Homo sapiens: one gene and its partner. The protein of the gene in region 1 purifies or fractionates together with the protein of each later gene. This does not show direct contact. Each region holds a gene or a part of one and is shown in the gene's direction. Other genes may lie near its edges.

What was found. Proteins that work in one complex are often made in the same cells at the same time.
Region 2: the proteins of HOXB3 (region 1) and MIPEP purify together in Homo sapiens (affinity purification with mass spectrometry; one large-scale study listed by BioGRID and IntAct). This does not show direct contact.

Annotation. Positions count from the first base shown.
Region 1 is NC_000017.11:48,552,242-48,555,741, reverse strand, and holds part of HOXB3 (homeobox protein Hox-B3), read left to right. Parts: exon of another isoform or gene 1-17; intron 18-123; coding exon of another isoform or gene 124-211; exon of another isoform or gene 212-3,109; 5' UTR 3,110-3,267; coding exon 3,268-3,500. UniProt on the Homo sapiens protein: Sequence-specific transcription factor which is part of a developmental regulatory system that provides cells with specific positional identities on the anterior-posterior axis.
Region 2 is NC_000013.11:23,864,568-23,869,887, reverse strand, and holds part of MIPEP (mitochondrial intermediate peptidase), read left to right. Parts: intron 1-439; coding exon 440-596; intron 597-5,320. UniProt on the Homo sapiens protein: Cleaves proteins, imported into the mitochondrion, to their mature size.

The DNA of each region.
Region 1 (3,500 bases):
CGCGGCTCCTCTGGCCGGTCTGCCCCTCGGGCTCCCCAGCCGGGGTGGCTTTGCGGGGCGGGGGCGGGGGGGCGGGGGGCGACGCAGCTTTAAACAGTGGTCTTTTTTTCCTTTGCCTTCAAGGAGGGGAGATTTGTCGCCTGCCGCTCGCTCTGGGGCTCGATGTGAATATATATTATGTCTGCCTGTTCTCCCCTCGTCGGTGGCTAAGGTAAGCTGGACTGAAATAGGCTATCAGTTTGTGAATGGCGGAGAGTATGTCTCAATGATTTATGGCCCATATGACTCCAATCTCGGTTCAAGAAGAGTTCACAAGCTTTAAGCTTCCTTCCACGCAGCGACTCTCTCTCTCCCTCCCTCCCTCCCTCCCTCCCTCCCTCTCTCTCTCTCTCTCTCTCTCTCTCTCCCTCTCTCTCTCCCCTCTCTCTTCCTGCTTCTCTCCTCTTTTCTCCTCTCTCTCTTTTCTTTCAGCAGCCAGATCCAGGGCTGAATTTTCTCCGCGGCTGCTAAGAAAGTCTCAACCTTTCTCTGTCTTCCTTTCTTGTTATTTTTCTTTCTCCCATTAATTTTTTTAAGTCCTGGAAGATGGCCTATCCCCTCTCTCGGGGCTTCCCCAGCTATTGTTACTCTCCTGGCTCTCCCTGGGGTGTGCTTGGCAAGGTGGGGTTCTTGCGGGGGGCTCATCTCCCTTCTCCAGCGAGACCCTGGGGGGAAGCCGGCAGCCACCGTCTCCCTCCCTCCCTCCCGAGGAGCCATATGGAACCTGAATTTTTCCAACATGGAGGCAAGGGAAATAGATCTGTTTGGCTTGGTAGAGTTGTTCCCCACCCCCTCTTGTTCTGGATCCCAGATCTTGGGTCCCCTTAGCACCTTTCTCTCTTCCCACTGTCCCGTCCGCCAGGCCTCGGCGCCCTCCAACCCGGAGCCCTGCTGAGCAAAGTCCCGAAGCGGAGTTTCTAAGGCGCCTTTTAATTCGGTTACCTCCAGCTCCCAAAACTTGCTGCCGCCCGCGGGGCTCGGCCCTCGGCCGGCTGGTGTGCTGGGAACCTGCCTCCGATAACCGTTTTGGTGTCCTGATCGCTTGCTCTTCTTCGCCTCCTTGGGCCATCGTAGGTGGCTGGTAGCTTGTCGCCAGTCGCCGCGGCAGCAGCGACCGGCTGAGGCAGCCTGGCAGCAGCAGCCAGGGACTACCCGGGTGCACAAACCTTCCCAGCCCTGTCTGCACCACCGGCGGAGTCTCCATTCTTTCCTATCGCGTCTCTGGCTCCTTCGCTTTCCACACTCGCCTGGCCTCCGTCCCGCGATGGTTTGGGGTTTATTGCAAGGGGAGCGGCAGGAATTTCGGCCCCAGGCATCTAGTTAAATTATTGTTTTATTATTATTACTATCATCATCATCGTCATCATTATTATTGCTGTAACAATCAGACTAAATAAAGCCAGGGCCTAGCCAGCCAACCCCCTCCAACGTTTTTATTTCATTCTCTTCTCTATTAATAACAACCACAACTAATGCCTGTTAATTAATTCCCCCTTCAGCCAGGGCTGCTTGGAAGCTAATTTTGGTTAAATCAGCAGAGGCTAATGGTAATAATAATAAAGGGATTGGGTCAGCCTGGTCAATTGAACTCTGGTTCTCCCTGGAAGGACCTGCTGCTTTGCAGACCCATGTGTATTTCCAGAAACCAATCGGAACTCAGGGTTACACTGATTCCCTTTTGAGTATAAATCTGTGCCATGAAGAAGGGGATTTATGTGAGGGAGGGACTTTTCTTCACCTGCACTCCTTTTATTTTATTTTCCTATGTTTAGTTTTCTTTGGAGTTGAACAGCTAGGCTGAATGAGATTAAAGTTTTCCAAACACACATGGCAGTATGGAGGTTTTATGAAAAGTGATGGTGAAGAGTTGGGAGAGATGGAGGGAAAAAAATGCAGTCAGAAGTTTCAGAACAAATACACAAAATCCTATGTTAGTTTGAATCTTTATTTTTCTGGCACACTTTTAAAAGGCTGTATTAAAATAGTGATTTTTTTTTTTTGCCTCAGGGAACCTCAGTCAACAGGAATACCTCTGTTTCTAACCTAGAGAATAATATTGTTAAAATTGCTTTGTTAATTTTTTTTTCCTCAGGAATAATTTTCTCTTTTGGAAAGCACTTTCCCCGTCTCAGTAGAAAAGTCTAGCAGTTGTAACTTCTTGTTTCTTATTTGCTTTGGGGGAAATCAAAGAAAACAGACGGTGAAGGAAAGGGTGGGAAAAATTAAGTCTCATGAAAAAAAAAAAAAGAGGTCCGGGGAGAGACCTGGGCCAAATGGTCACAGCACCAACTGGCGTGGCCCAGGAAATTGAAACAATCCTGCTCCATGTGGGGGCCCCACAGGGCCACTGGCTGCCCGATCCCAGGTTTGGCTGAGCAAAGACAAGGGCTGGAGGTGGTGGTACCTGCAGCAGGGCCATGGACAGATGAGTCTCGGTTCAGCTGGCTCTTGAGGTTAAAAATCATCAGGAAGTTTCTAGGTCAGGCTGTTGTTGTCTTCCTGGTGGGAGAGTGGTGGGAAGTGGAGAGGATACCTCACAAGAGAAGCTTCTCTGCTGAACTTGCTTCTCCTGCCTGTTCTTTTAGGAGATCCTTTGGTTTTCCTTCAGGCTAGACTTTGCTTGGGCAAGAGACCTAAACCGACTTGGAAGGAGGCAAAGGCTGGAAGCATAGAAGCCTCTGGGCTCAGAGGAGGGTGTTGATGATGCTTTTATTTTGGAGTCTCCTAGTGTCCCCTCCCTTGAGCCATCCTATCCCAGAGTTGGGGAGGAGAGATAGGGAGAGAGGGACTAGGGGAGGTCAGGGGCTAGTGCACAGGCAGGAGAGAAGCAATGGCCTTTGCCATAGATTCTACATCTAGGCAGTCTTGAAAGGCATATAGTCTTTATTTATTTTTTTATTTTTTAGTGGAAATGAAAACTGGTGGGCTTTTTTTTCTCAGCATCTGCTTTGGAGATGTTGGGGAGGGGAAAAGAAAAAACCCTATTGATGTCAGTTCCCTTTTCAGTTCCTAAGATGGATTCGAGCCCCAGTCCTCTTCTCCCCCTTGTGTCTCTTCTCTCGCCTCGCAGGTCAGCCGCTTGGAACAGACCCCGGAGGAGGGGGGCAGAGAGGGGAGGTGGGGGGGGGGGGTCCGGCGTGTCACGTGACCCCCAGGGTTGCCAATGTCCGGTCCTGAGGGTATCAGGCCTTTCCAAGTTGCCACCCACTGCCCAGGCCTCACCCAGCGATGCAGAAAGCCACCTACTACGACAACGCCGCGGCTGCTCTCTTCGGAGGCTATTCCTCGTACCCTGGCAGCAATGGCTTCGGCTTCGATGTCCCCCCCCAACCCCCATTTCAGGCCGCCACGCACCTGGAGGGCGACTACCAGCGCTCAGCTTGCTCGCTGCAGTCCCTGGGCAACGCTGCCCCACATGCCAAGAGCAAGGAGCTCAACGGCAGCTGCATGAGGCCGGGTCT
Region 2 (5,320 bases), on another chromosome or scaffold:
TTTAACTTGTGGAATTATTAATGCCATAAACACTTTAAAGAATGAAAATGATTTAATTACTTATATTTCATACAAGACTCCTTATTTTTAAAGTATGATTAATAACACCATTAACTGACATTCTAGACTACAGAGACTTTTAAATTCATGCAGCCTTACTTCTCCTGGTTAAGACGCTTTATAGCATAGAGATCCACGCACTGGGTAGAGGTTTGCCCCACCGTACCTCAGAACAGTACCCTAGAGCTGCAGTCAAGTATGCTATTGCATCCCATGCTATTTTATGACTCTGGAAGCTTTATGGCCTCGTGTAGACCATTGCTTTATTTTGAAAGCAGTGATCATCTGCAGATCAAGTGGTGAGCATGAGCCTGTGTTATTGTTGCATAGGACTGTGTGATGATATTTATAGCCTTCACCATTTACTTTTTAAACGTAGGTGCGAGAAGCTGCTTATAAAATTTTTCTTTATCCCAATGCTGGTCAATTGAAATGTTTAGAAGAATTGCTCAGCAGCAGAGATCTTCTGGCAAAGTTGGTGGGGTATTCCACGTTTTCTCACAGGGCTCTCCAAGGAACGATAGCTAAAAATCCAGGTAAGCCTGTTTATCCAACATTTAAGGGCAAAATAGGATTTTTATGAAACTGAGCTTTTGATTTTAAATAGCTGTAAATTAGTGTTCTATTTTTAATACATGTAGAGAACCATTTATTGAGATTTTCTATGTATTTTTATAGGAACCATTTTTAAATAGAGCTAATAATTTGGCATAATTCTGTCCAACCAAAGAATTTTATTTTATGTGAATGTTGAGAGTAAAATCATAACCTAAATTTTCATTTTGATGTTAGTCTAAATTGTTTTCATTTTAACACAGTTTCTGTGCTGAATTTGACAAATTGGTTAGAATTAGTGTAAGAGAATGAAAGATCAGTATGTTTACTGAGGTCAAGGTTAAATGTAGGTTAGGTCATATAAAAAACACACAGTCAGATAAGCCTCCTTTTCAGAGAGAAGAGTACTGCTTAGGAAGGTTTGTGCTAGGTGAGGTGTTACGGAAGTGTGTCGTTGGGTTTGTCATAAACTTGCCTTGTGCTATGTTGAGTTCCTTATGATTCATAATGTCTAAGAGAAAATGTTACACAATAATAATATAAATGTACATAATACGTTTTTTCAGAAGCATTTATTAACTTACAGTTGTAATTTAGGTGGTGAGTCAGGAGTAGGGTGGCCGTGATGATGGAGCTGCGTGAGACTCAAGGTCTTGGCAGTGAAGTTGCAAGACTTAGTGAGGGTGAGAGGGAGGAGGAGGCATTGTGGTGGGCCCCCTGGGTTTCTGGTTGTACATCTGGTTAGACATTCCACTCACCGACAGAGGGGACACTGGGGGCAGATCACAACCTGAATCCTCGCTTGTCTTTATTCCTTCTGTGCTTATCCCTTCTCACCCTAGCATGTTCCTCTCTTCTCCAAAGTTCTCTAAATGCACTCAATCTTACTTCTTACTCTTTCGTAAACAACTGTTTCCCTTGACCTGTCAGGGCTCTCGGTTAAGCTACAGGCGTGTCACGCTCATTGCGGCCTGGGTTCCCTTGCTCGTGTCACTCTCCTATGGAGAGCAGCTTTTCTTCCTGGTCTGCCTGTTAAAATCTTACCCCGTTTTTTTAGTGCTCAGCTCAAAACCCACCTCTTTCATGAAGCTGGTTAAACTTTTTCACTTTCCTTGGACTCCTTTGTCCCCGAACCCTTAAAACACTTACATTTTTTTTCATATAATCGAAGCTCCTAAACAGATATAATATGTATGTTATGTATTAAATGTGTGTTTTTAGTGTATGTTTTTTCTTTTTTTGTAAGTATCAGTTTGGTGAAAAGTATGTTTTTCTGTAGTCGCTGTTGTCAACAGTTTGATTATAATAGTACCATATTTTTATTTTATATTTATATAAAATAATAATATTAGAATATCATTCAGTGCTTATCCTGTTGTTATCTCATTTCCTTCCTCTGCAGCTTTGTGAGGTAGGTATTTGTATTCGTGTCACAGATAAGGAATCTAAGGTTAGGTTATATTGCTAAAATGTGGCAGAACTGAAGCCTAAACACATATGCTACATTTATGGTTTTCCACAGGCTGCTTGAGACCTAATGCCCTATGTTTTATATCATCTACATCCCCCTTTTGTTTATTAATTCAGCAAATATTTACTGATTGCCCACTGTATGTCAGATATTATTCTCGGTCAGGGAAATAAGTCAGTGTACAAAGCAGAAGAAAATTCCTATCCTTATGCAGTTTACATTCTTGGGAGCAAGGGAAGAACAGTAAAGAACGAAATAAGTAGATAAAGTATGTGGTATGTTATTAGTTAATACAAGCCATGGAGAAAACTGAACAGGGAAGGGGATAAGGTATGTGGGCATGTAGGCTGGTGTTGGAGTTTTAGAGAGCATTGTCGGAAGGCTCACTTAGAATGTGGAATGTGAGCGTGCTCTTGACAGACACAAGCATGAGGCTGTGGCTCTTGAGGGGAGAAAGGTTTCACGCAGAGTCACTATCAAGTGCTAAGGTCTTGAGGCAGAAAAATGCCTGCCACGTTTGAGGAGGGCAGAGTGGCTGAAGCGCAGCGTGTGCAAGGAGAGTGGCGAGAGGTGGGAACAGACTGACAAGGGGCGGCATTAAGTAGAGACTTGATGCAAGTGCAGCAGGTCACTGTGGGGGTTGGGGCAGAGGAGTGAGATGATCTGACTCCAGTGCTAATGGTGAGTCAGTGCTGCTGTTCCTGAGAGAAGACTGCAGCAGGGCCAGGGTAGAAGAGGGCCTGTTTAGATGCTGTTTTGCAGTAACCATGATGAGAAGTGTTGGCATCTTGACCAGGTGGTAGCAGGGAAGGTGGTAAGATGTGATCAGATTCTGGGTACAGAGTATTTGGAAGAGGGAGCCAACATTTTCGACCTAAGCAACTAGAAAGAGAGTGAGTTACTACTGTTAACTAAGATTGGGAGGACCGGAAACTTGGTTTGTTTCAAGTTAAGTTTGAGATACCAAATGAGGTTCAAGTGGTGAAGTTGGGTAGGCAGTTAGATGGAGTGTGGAGTTCTGAGCTTCATATGTAAGTCTGAACCTCTAAAATGAGATTCTGATACCACTAAGAGAGTGAACTTAAAGAACAAGTCCAAGGACTGCGCTCTGGGGCCTTCAAGTTTAAGAGGCCAGGCATGTGAGGAACTGCTAGTTAACGCTGCCAGATGTAACGGCCACTAAGGGAGGTGGAAAGTGATTACAGGGTGTGGTCCTGGAGGCCGCGCAGAAGGTCTGTCTACAGGAGAGGGGAGAGATCAGCTGACTCATGCTGTGGCCAGGTCAGATGTGAGGAGGGCTGGGCATGACCACTGGCTGTAGCAGCGTGGAGCTCACTGGACCTGCAGCACCCAGCTCCAGATTCCGTGACTGGCAGGTCACCCTTGTGCACTAAGTGCTTGGTGTGCTGATGTATTGGCAGGGGGCTGTTGTGCACATCATCACGTAAGATGTGCTCTGGGTCCTTGAGGATTTAAAGCTTAGTTGAGGAGCTGGATATATGCATATAAAAAGATAAATAATAATAGAGGTTGGCACGTTTTCGGTGTCGATGGAGTAGTACAGACAAAACAATGCCATGGGATTTAGGAGCTCGGGGCATTTGTCAGATGCATCTGTGGCTGTGGAAGGCGCCCTGAGGGAAATGAAACTGTCATGCACAGTGATGGAGTGAGTCCTCAGCAGAGCAGAAGGAAGACAGAGAGGCTGACTGAGGCTAAGGCGGGCATTCATGTGGCTAGTGAATGAGGAGGTAACTGCGGTGAGGCACTTAGTGGGGGGTTTCAAACTGAATCTTAATATGACAATTCTCTGGGGACACTAATTGAGGCAGGCCAGATGTGGTGTCTCATGCCTGTAATCTCAGCACTTTGGGAGGCTGAGGCAGGCAGATCACTTGAGGTCAGGAGTTCAAGAACAGCCTGGCCAACATGGTGAAACCCCATCTCTACTAAAAATACAAAAATTAATTGGGCGCGGTGGCGGGTGCCTGTAATCCCAGCTACTCAGGAAGCTGAGACAGGAGAATCGATTGAACCCTGGGAGGCAGAGGTTGCAGTGAGCCGAGATGGGACTTCTGCACTCCAGCCTGGGCAACAGAGCAAGACTCCATCTCAAAAAAAAAAAAAAATTAATTGAGGCAGATTCTTCACATGTAAAATGACTGGAAGAATAAGATGGGTGAATGTTAAAACACGGTTATTAAGAAATAAAACGTATACAAGCATACATAGGGATTCATTTGAAAACAGTTTGGTATGGTACCTGGAATATAATCCTAAAATGAGATTTCATTGTTGACTAAATAATGTCTTTGTTCCCCAAAAATTCCTATTGTTGTTTCATATGGCACATGAGCCAGTGTTTTCAGAATTCGTATACACAGGACTTGTTAAGTATTGACAGTGGCAAGAAACCTCATGGTTTGGGTTTAGGTTAACCACCATTATTTATTTCCTTAGTCTTTTATTTCACTCAAAAGGAGATAACTTAAATTGAAGAGAGGGCAGGAAACTTAAAACTGTATAAAAGATTATCTGGAAAATACAAACATAGTGTTTGTGGTGAACTAAAATACATATGAAAGCTCTGTACACATAAGTCAGTGATAAAAAGTGCTACATTCAGAAATACTTGCAAAACATTTCCTCTTGTGGGAAACGGTGATAATTCTACTGCACTGCCTTTATGGGTTTGTAAATTATGACAACTATGGCAGAAGTATTTTAATAAAAATACTTTAAAAATTCTATCAGAAGTTAATATTTATTTTTCTTATTTTGCTATTTTTTTCATATTTATCCTGAATAGATTATTCTACAGTTGTATATAACAATAAAATTGTTATCAAGAAAAACATTGATCTTAAAAAATTTATTTCAGGGAATTATACTTCTACACTGCACCTATTTTTATGAACAAAGCAGTCTAGATATCTCTTTAAAACTCTGAAAACGTCAGACATGTCTCAGAACTTTTTTTTCTTACACATATGAATAGATAGAAACACCTTGAAATTTTGTACTTTTTTCTTTAGCCTCCCATTAACTCTTTTTTTTTTTTTTTTTGAGATGGAGTCTCACTTTCTTGCCCAGGCTGGAGTACAGTGGCACAGTCTGGGCTCACTATAGTCTCTACCTCCTGGGTTCAAGCTATTCTCCTGCCTTAGCCTCCCAAGTAGCTGGGACTATAGGCATGCACCACCACGCCTGGCTAATTTTTGTATTTTTGGTAGA